Linked DNA regions of Homo sapiens: region 1 is linked to region 2. Evidence: fine-mapped expression QTL. A gene starts in region 2. The other region holds a variant in brackets. All regions are shown on one strand. Distances are from middle to middle.

Region 1 (4,392 bases), 70 kb before region 2:
TGGTGACATGTGCCTGTAGTCTCAGCTACTCGGGAGGCTGAGGCAGGAGAATCGCTTGAACCCGGGGGCAGAGGTTGCAGTGAGTCGAGATCATGCCACTGCACTCCAACCTGGGTGACAGAACAAGACTCCGTCTGGAGAAAAAAAAAAAAAAAACAGAAAGACACACTCATTGATTTTCAGGCAGAAGCATTGGCACTGGAATCATTCTGGTAGGTGGCTACATGTCCTCTTTGCAAATATTCAAGAAATGAGATTCCACATTCTTTCAGCAAACTCTGACAATGTTAAACAAAAATAACCACAAAAGTGGTCATTAGCTGAGCTGAGAGGACGCTTCTAGCCATCAGATTCCTTCTTTTTGTATTCTCCTTCTTTTTGTTACCTTTTTCCTGAATTAATCACTGCATTTCTATGCTTAGATAAGGGCAATGAGGTGTAGTAGAAAGGACAAGGTGTCTGGGGAAGGTCAAAGTCATTTTAAGATTTCAAGGAACAGAATCTACTCAAGCCAGATCAGTGTTCTCAGCTGTGGTCTGAGTTCCTGGTGATTTCCATCCGGTGGGCCTGGGAGAGGGTCCAGGCATCATCTGTAGCTTTTTTTTTTTTTTAATTTTTTAATTTTTTTGAGACAGGGTGTCCCTCTGTGCCCCAGGCAGGAGTGCAGTGGTGTGATCTTGGCTCACTGCAGCATCCACCTCCCTGGCTCAAGCAATCCTCCCGCTTCAGCCTCCCAAGTAACTGGATGTACAAGGATACACCACCACACCCAGCTAATTTTTGTATTTTTTGTAGAGACAGGGTTTGGCCATGTTGCCTAGGCTGGTCTCTGACTCCTGAGCTCAAGCAATCTGCCTGCCTTGGCCTCCCAGAGTGCTGGGATTATAGGCGTGAGCCACTGCACCTGGCCTATCTGTAGCTTTAAATGTTGCACACACACCTGTCCCTCAGTGGCTCCTGGTCTCTCCTTCTCTCTGCCTGTGCTTCATTCCTGCCATAGAGAGCTGATTCCTTGGCTACTATACCATCATGCCTGTGGCTCTGGTTTGTCAGGGCACCAATTCTGGGCCCCAGTCTGCAGAACATTTCAGAACTGCCTCTCAGTTCAAATTTCAGAGCAAATATGCCTGCTCACAGCACAGCAAATACATTGCTTCTTCTCTGATCTTTGTTCAAATATTGGCCCACCCCCATTTAGAATACATGACTTTGACCATGATACTTGAACTCTGAGTTCTTGTGTAAAACAGAAATACAAGCCGGGCGCGGTGGCTCACGCCTGTAATCCCAGCACTTTGGGAGGCCAAGGCGGGCGGATCATGAGGTCAGGAGATTGAGACCATCCTGGCTAACAAGGTGAAACTACTAAAATACAAAAAATACCATCTCTACTAAAAATACAAAAAATTAGCCAGGCGTGGTGGCGGGCGCCTGTAGTCCCAGCTACTCGGGAGGCTAAGGCAGGAGAATGGCGTGAACCTGGGAGGCGGAGCTTGCAGTGAGCCAAGATCATGCCACCGCACTCCAGCCTGGGGGACAGAGTGAGACTCCGTCTCAAAAAACAAACAAACAAAAACAAACAGAAATACAAATTTCCACTTCACTGGGCTACTGAAGGATTAAATGCAAATATATATATATATATAAAATAACTATCACAATGCCTGGCACCTACCAGTCAGTTTCTATAGCCTTTCAAACAAAGTGGCAAGGCTAAGAGCCCTATGTGCTGTTCGTCTCTTGCACTGACAACCCCACCTCTGAAAAGTCTGCACAGACAGCCTCAGTGCAGTCAAATAAGGCTTGTTGCTTTTCCTTTTCCTCATATTT[G/T]CCAAGAGCCATTTTCATAACTCTTTAGTACAGAAATAAGAAGGAAAACTGCTGAAACTCGAAGTGGTTTGACTTACTTTTGTTAGTCTCTAGTTGAGAAGAGAATAAGACTAAAGACCAAAATGAAATTTTTGCTTTGGGCGTGTGGGCTTAATTCATCTGTGCTATCACTCTCGTGGCCCTGAGAAATAGGGGCTGCTCTAAGTAGGCACATGGTAACCACCTACTGATCTGTTTTTGTTAAAGTGTGTTCTGTATTTTCATTTGTACTTGTTTTAAATTTTGTGAGTCTTCTGGGAGTAGACAAAGATTAAACATGGGTAGCAGGTTTTCTTTCTTTCCCTTCTGTCTTCTGACGTGTTTCCTATTTCTTTGTTGGGTAGAATTAGCGTGTTTCCTTTGTTTTTAATAGTTCCTTAAACTTTCAGTCCTACTCAGCCCTATTTTAAGCTACTTTGTCTTTTTGTTTTTCGCTTTTGGTCAGTGGAGGGACTCTATAGTTTGTCAGGATGTGCCTCTGTACGATGAAAACTAGAGAGAAAATTCTGACAAGTAGAGTTTTTTCTTTGATTAGCTTTCTCATGTGGAGTCAAGTCCTCTGCTTGCCTCACCAGGACAGGTGGTGAAGAAGCTTTTCAGATCTTTTTTTCTTCTAGGAAAGCTTGCACATCTGGAGCACAGCCCTCCTTTCTTATTTTTTGCTATGTTGTTCAAAGCTTTTTAAGAAAAAAAAACATAAACAGCAAAGAAAAAAATTGGTTTTTCATACCAAGTTGGCTTTTATTGGATGCCCTCAACTGCAGAGACATATTTAAAGGGCAGCTGGCCACCTTCTTTTGAGGTCAGACAGCTGACTCTTAATCATATTGACAATTTCTGGCTGGGAAGAAACATCTAAAAAACGTATTATGAAACATAAAAGTGGAGGCAGCTCTTTACCTTGCCACTTCCCCCTCCAGTCTCTACAGGAGTTCCTCCAAACAAAGCTCACGTTCCAAGAGTGGCAGGCCCACTTCTTCTATCTCATTCTCCTTCGCAGCCTTTGAACGACCTCTCTCATCCTCCCATCTCTCACAGCCTCACCTCTCTAGGTATTTGGAACCTTACGCTTTGCAGATGAGGAAAATTTAATGCCTCAATGATAACTTCAAATGGCATTTTAGCCCCTACAGAAATGAATAAATCATCAGATTCACTTTTCATTTGGGAACTGAAAGGGATTATAGCCCACAAGAACTTCAGGATCCTCATTTGGAACCCTGCTTTAGGAAGGCTTTTTTTCTTTTTTTTTTTTTTTTTTTTTGAGACGGAGTTTCTCTCTTGTTGCCCAGGCTGGAGTGCAATGGCACGATCTCGGCTCACTGCAACCTCTGCCTCCCAAGTTCAAGCAATTCTCCTGCCTCAGCCTCCCGAGTAGCTGGGATTACAGGCACCTACCACCATGCCCAGCTAATTTTTGTATTTTTAGTAAAGATGGGGTTTCACCATGCTGGCCAGGCTGGTCTTGAACTCCTTACCTCAGGTGATCTGCCCACCTCGGCCTCCCAAAGTGCTGGGATTACAGACGTGAGCCACCACACCTAGTCAGGAAGGCGTTTTATACAGACATGCCCTGCCCTTGCCCGTGACCTGCCCTTGCCCATGACCTTGAGGACATAGGGCTCTATTTCCACTAGTCAGAAGCCCCTAAGGCGAAGGCTTTCTGAGACAAGAAAAAGTAATTTATGGAACCAGTAATATTTAAGTGATAATAATAGGGGCTTGATTGAACATTTACTCTGTACCAGGTGCTGTATTACATGCTTTTATAAGCATTACCTCATTTAATCATCTCACCGATCTTATGATTTTTTCCCCTTGTGATTTCTTCATTGGCAGAGAAGAAAACAAATAAATGCAGTATATCGGAAACAAGTATGTATATGCATGATTTGTAGTGGCCAAACATTGGTAACAACCTGTTAACAGAGGAATACTTAAATACATTTTTTAGTAAAAAAAGCAATTTACAAGGCTGGGCGCAGTAGCTCATGCCTGTAATCCCAGCACTTTGGGAGGCCGAGGCAGGTGGATCACTTGAGGTCAGGAGTTGGAGACCAGACTGGCCAACATGGTGAAACCCCATCTCCACTAAAAAATACAAAAAAATTAGCCAGGTGAAGTGGCATGCGCCTGTAATCTCAGCTACTCAGGAGGCTGAGGCAGGAGAATCGCTTGAACCTAGGAGACAGAGGTTGCAGTGAGCCCTGACTGATTTCAGGTGTCTCTGCCCCAACAGACTCCCTGAGGTTAATAGCCTCCACTCGTGTCTCCAAGGGAAAGAGATCGTCCTCCGCCAAGGATAATAGAACACACAGACACTGTCTCAGTCTCATCCTTGATAAACTGCTGCATGATCACTGCTGTCTGCCGAAGACCAGCAGCAGGGCAGAACAAAACAGATGTACGGGAACTCCATGCAGAGAAGCAGACTTGATCACCATCTACTCAGGGATGCTCAAGGAGACTGGGCAGTCTAAGCTCCAGTGGACTGAAGAAAAGACAAAAAGAGGCAGAGGAAAT
Region 2 (4,392 bases):
ATTTAAGGTTCAGGGCCTAACTGCTTCATCTTTATATAATTGGAAGTGAATATTTAGAGCTTGGTACCTGATATGTCTTTTCTTCTTTTTCTTTTTTTGAAACAGAGTCTCGCTCTGTCGCCCAGGCTAGAGTGCAGTGGCACATCTTTTCTATTTTTATTATTATTTATTTAAGACAGAGTCTTGCTCTGTCATCCAGGCTGGAGTGCAGTGGCATGAACACGGCTCACTACAGCCTTTAACTCCTGGGCTAGAGCAATCCTCCCACCTCAGCCTCCTGAGTAGCTGGGACTACAGGCACGTGCCACCACGCCCGGCTAATTTTTGTATTTTTAGTAGAGACAGGGTTTCACAATGTTGGCCAGGCTGGTCTCGAACTCCTGACCCATGATCTACCCGCCTCGGCCTCCCTAAGTGCTGGGATTACAGGTGTGAGCCACCGCGCCCAGCCTAGGTTAAATAACTTCTAAGGACACAACTAGTAAGCTGCAGCATTAAGATACTAATTCAAACGTATGTCATGCACCCCCTTTATTTTTCATTCTCATACTATCTTTTCTTCACCCTGCCACCTCTGCCCTACCATGTTCTGTCCTGCCCCCACATTTTTTATTTATTCATAGTCTACCCACTACTGCTAGTTCAAATTTCACATATTCAATGAAATCTTCCTTGATTACTCTTATTCATGTTAATTTCTCTTTTTTTTCCAGAAGGCTCCTGAGATAGCTCTCACGGTAAATGGGGGAGGTTATGACATGGGGCATGTGGCCTTGGAGAATAGCCTATTCAAGTCCTAACTGCTTTCACACTCAATATATATTCAGACTCTCCATGCAAAGGCCAATTTGTTTTGCAGGTAATGGATAAAGAACGAATCTCACCCTCCAGTGGTCCCCAATTTCAGGTAGTGTTTTCTCATGATATGGATGTATCTCCTAAGGCTGATGTGGCTGATGATGGATGCAATTGTTTGCATTATTTGGCTGAGTTAAGTTTCCCAGGAGTAGCTGCAGAATGGAGCAGATTTACAAGGGTTATCCGGACAAACAGCATCCCCACTTTGGGACTAGCATTTAGGACACCAGAAGTCTTTCCTTTCCCTTCTCCACCCCTGCTTCTGTTGGAAGCAGACTTCAACCCCTCCCAAATCTGACTCCTTCAGGGTTCCTACATGAGAAGCAAAAGCTCATTTCCTATTCGCCATTTCCTCATGCTAACACATCCAAAACAGAGAATTTTTGTTGGCTCAGCTGCTTTAATTTTTTTGGTAGAGGAAAATATATCAACATTAGAAACCATTGATTTTTGTTGCTGATGGTCCTTAGAAAGTAATGCAAAAAGTTGCTTAGAGTTAAAAAAGTATGCCTGATAATCTGCTTTCATTTCCTCCTTTCTCAAGGTGATACAATTACAATCAGAACCTGCAAAAAATCCACAGTAAATTCTTCTCTAATGCCTTTTGCACTTAAAATCTTTAGTAGATACCTTAGCATCTTATTCAGTAATAACATGCCAACTTAGTCTGTAACTAAATATTTGGTCTTCAATTGTGACTACATAAAATGCTGAAATATCTATAACTTGGGAAGCAGCAGTTATAAATGCAGGTCTGGTATTAGACAACCTGTGTTCAAATCGCACCTCTATCGTTTATTAACTGTGTGACATTAAGTTCCTTAACGTCTCTGATAGCCTCATTTTCCTCATCTTAAAATGGGATCCTATCATTTCATAAAGTTGTATTCTATATGAGTAATTAATAATGATAATAGTTCTTTGAAGGCCTACTACACTAGGAATTATGTTGAGCACTTCACACTCATTTTATCTAATTGTGAGAACAGGGCTTCGTACACTGTAGACAACCAAAACATACTGAATGATTGAGGCGGGGCTAATGAGGTCCGCAGCTGGCACGCCATTAGAGGAGTCGCGAGTGGAGCTCAGTCATGTCTGCCCACAAAGCGCCTGCGCTTGACCTCTACGTTATATTTACTTTGGCAATGTACAAAGTGGTGAGGACAGTCCTAGCCCGGAGGGCCCCTAACACATTGTCGTCTTCTTATCCTCGGCCCTCTGCGTTAGAGAGGGCTGCCCCGAATCGGCTTTGAACGCTGACTCGCCCTTTTCCAGTCGGCCCTTGAGCCCACTAGTCAGGGCTACAGCGTTTTCCTAACCGAGGTTCAGAGGTGAGATGGAAAATGTACCCGTCTTTATTCTGTTCTCTCCCCTGCAATGACAGGGTGAATGGCGGTGGGGTTGGGGGCACGTCTCCAGAGTCCCAGTCCGCTCGGGACCCGCGGACCGCCCGGAGGCGACAACGGCCCTGAAATTGGGGGGAGCTTGTTTCCAGCCGGACTGTGTCCCTGGGCGCGCCAGAGCGCCGCGCCTGCGCGCTCAGCCCGTTGCCGCGCCGGCCCTGCGGACGTGCGCGCGCTGCCTTCGCGGCACCTGGGCCTGAGGTGCGTGCCTCCCGGGCCCTCGCCAGCTCCAGATGCGTGAGGAGGACTTCAGAAACCCGACTGAGAAGTGGAGCGACCCCCAGGGAGGGTCGGACCTGCCTCAATACCGCCAAGGTGCCTGGGGACCCAAGAACGGGGGCTCCACAACCTCAGTTCCTGAGCTCCTTTTGCTTTCTCACTTCCCCACCTATTGAGTGCGTCTCACGCGGAGCAGAAATTTGAGAGGAAGGCGTAGAGGGATTTTTTTTTGTTGTTGCTGTGGGTTGTATCACATGTGGCGTTTTCATCCTGGCTGCAGCCAAAGCAGTTTTTACCCTTACCCTTCCTTTCCTGGCGTGGGATTTTGTGGTTTCTGGACTCGGCTCGACCATTACGTGCTTATTATTGGTTGTGGGCCTTTAGAACGAGGACTGTGTGTCAGTGTCCTTTGTCCAGTGTAGTCCACTGGGAGGGAGAGGTGAGGGTTCAAGGCCAAGAGAATGGGCCCGGGGCGAGTGGGGCAGAAGCAGCCGCCGGAGATTATTCCCCAACTGAAAGTTGTGTGTGTTTCTCTTAGGTCTTTCATTTCTTGTTCGCTTACTTTCGTGAAATCCTCACATCGTTTTAATGGTACTAGTCAAGACAAGAAAATCAACAGGCTTTCAGCCTTGAGGCAACATTGGATATTATTGAGGTCAGTTTTTACAGTTTTTACAGTCTTCACGTAGAGTATCTTGTTCTTGTCAGGATAAATTCTGGATTGAACCACTGAGCAGATCTACTATTCTTTTATTTCAGTTTAAGATAAGAAAAATTACAGTCTTTTTTATTTTTATGTTATCAACAAAAATCGGTTGAAATGGGATTTGGAGCTCCATGAGTGCGTGAGGTGAGGATCCCTAACCTGACTCTCATAAACAGGAGATAGGATCACCACTTGCCACTAATGGTTCTAACAATCTAGGGCTCCCAGTAAGTGCTTTTCCACGTGGTGGGAGGCAAGTGACAACAGTTATCCAATCTTAGTGCTAACAATGGATGATTAACCGTAGCTCCTTTTTGGTACAGGAGCTGTAGGTAGCCAATCCCTGTTTTAATCAGAGGTAGTTGTGGTGTGTGATTTTTTTCTTTTAGGCGTGTTCCACGAAAGCATTTATTAAAGGGAAGAAGAAACATACAAAAGGAATTGAATCTGGCTTTATACCAAAATCCTGTGTGATCATTCAGTCCTGACATTGGACAATTACCAGGCTTTGCCTGACTGGCCTCAAGGGCCAAGCTGTCCTCCCACACCATACTCGATATGGGCCGGTGCATTGCAGTTTTCTGGAGGGGGTTGCAGTCAAGGACTTGCCCTGCCCCTCCTGCTAGATATGCAAATCCCATAACTTCTTTCCTAGCCTGGGTACCTCCATTTGGAGGCCCTCCTAGGAAGGACCGTGGCTAAGACACTTTTCTCCATTTTTGACCCAGCTTCTTTCACTCCTAGACCTTCCCCTCCCTTTCCTATTCTGAAGTTCCATAAGAGGCAGGAGATTTTTGTTAGGGGCTCCTTTCAGTGAGAGGATTACCTCATATGCACTGCATCAACTGACCCTCACCCAGTGTCCTTGTATTTAGTAGACCACTGGGGAGCCAGTGCCTCTTTTTACCACTTGCTTGCACTGTCACAGTAAGTGAATAAAGGCTTGATTACTTTTGGTTTGACTCATTGTCCTGATTGACTACCTTGGCACCTAATTGCTGCCAAGTTCTTTGCAGTTCACTGGATTCATGACTTAATTTTAATTATCATGACTGTTGCTCTGTATCGGCATGTTTAGAGACTTTGGAGCTTGTTCACCTCTAATTTCTCTAATTCAAGCTACTGAAAATGCATATTCATAGCACCAAGAGTTGATTGTTGGTTAACATTGATATCTGGGTTATATGATATATTTTACTACTA

Evidence for each region.
Region 1: its variant is fine-mapped to the expression of ZNF770 in whole blood (TOPMed, PIP above 0.99).

The regions. Positions count from the first base shown.
Region 1 is chr15:35,056,657-35,061,048 of GRCh38, reverse strand. No RefSeq gene overlaps it. Among named protein-coding and RNA genes, the nearest start is that of NANOGP8, 26 kb to the left of the region's middle. The variant G/T (reference allele first, on the strand shown) is at 1,831.
Region 2 is chr15:34,986,303-34,990,694 of GRCh38, reverse strand. ZNF770 (zinc finger protein 770) reads left to right here and starts at 2,408. Exons shown (of 3, transcript NM_014106.4): 1 at 2,408-2,579; 2 at 3,022-3,138. It overlaps LOC105370764 (a long non-coding RNA gene), which reads right to left and starts at 2,337. Exons shown (of 5, transcript NR_188212.1): 1 at 2,211-2,337; 2 at 885-1,010. RefSeq lists enhancers at 2,224-2,313, 3,720-3,769, 3,850-3,909.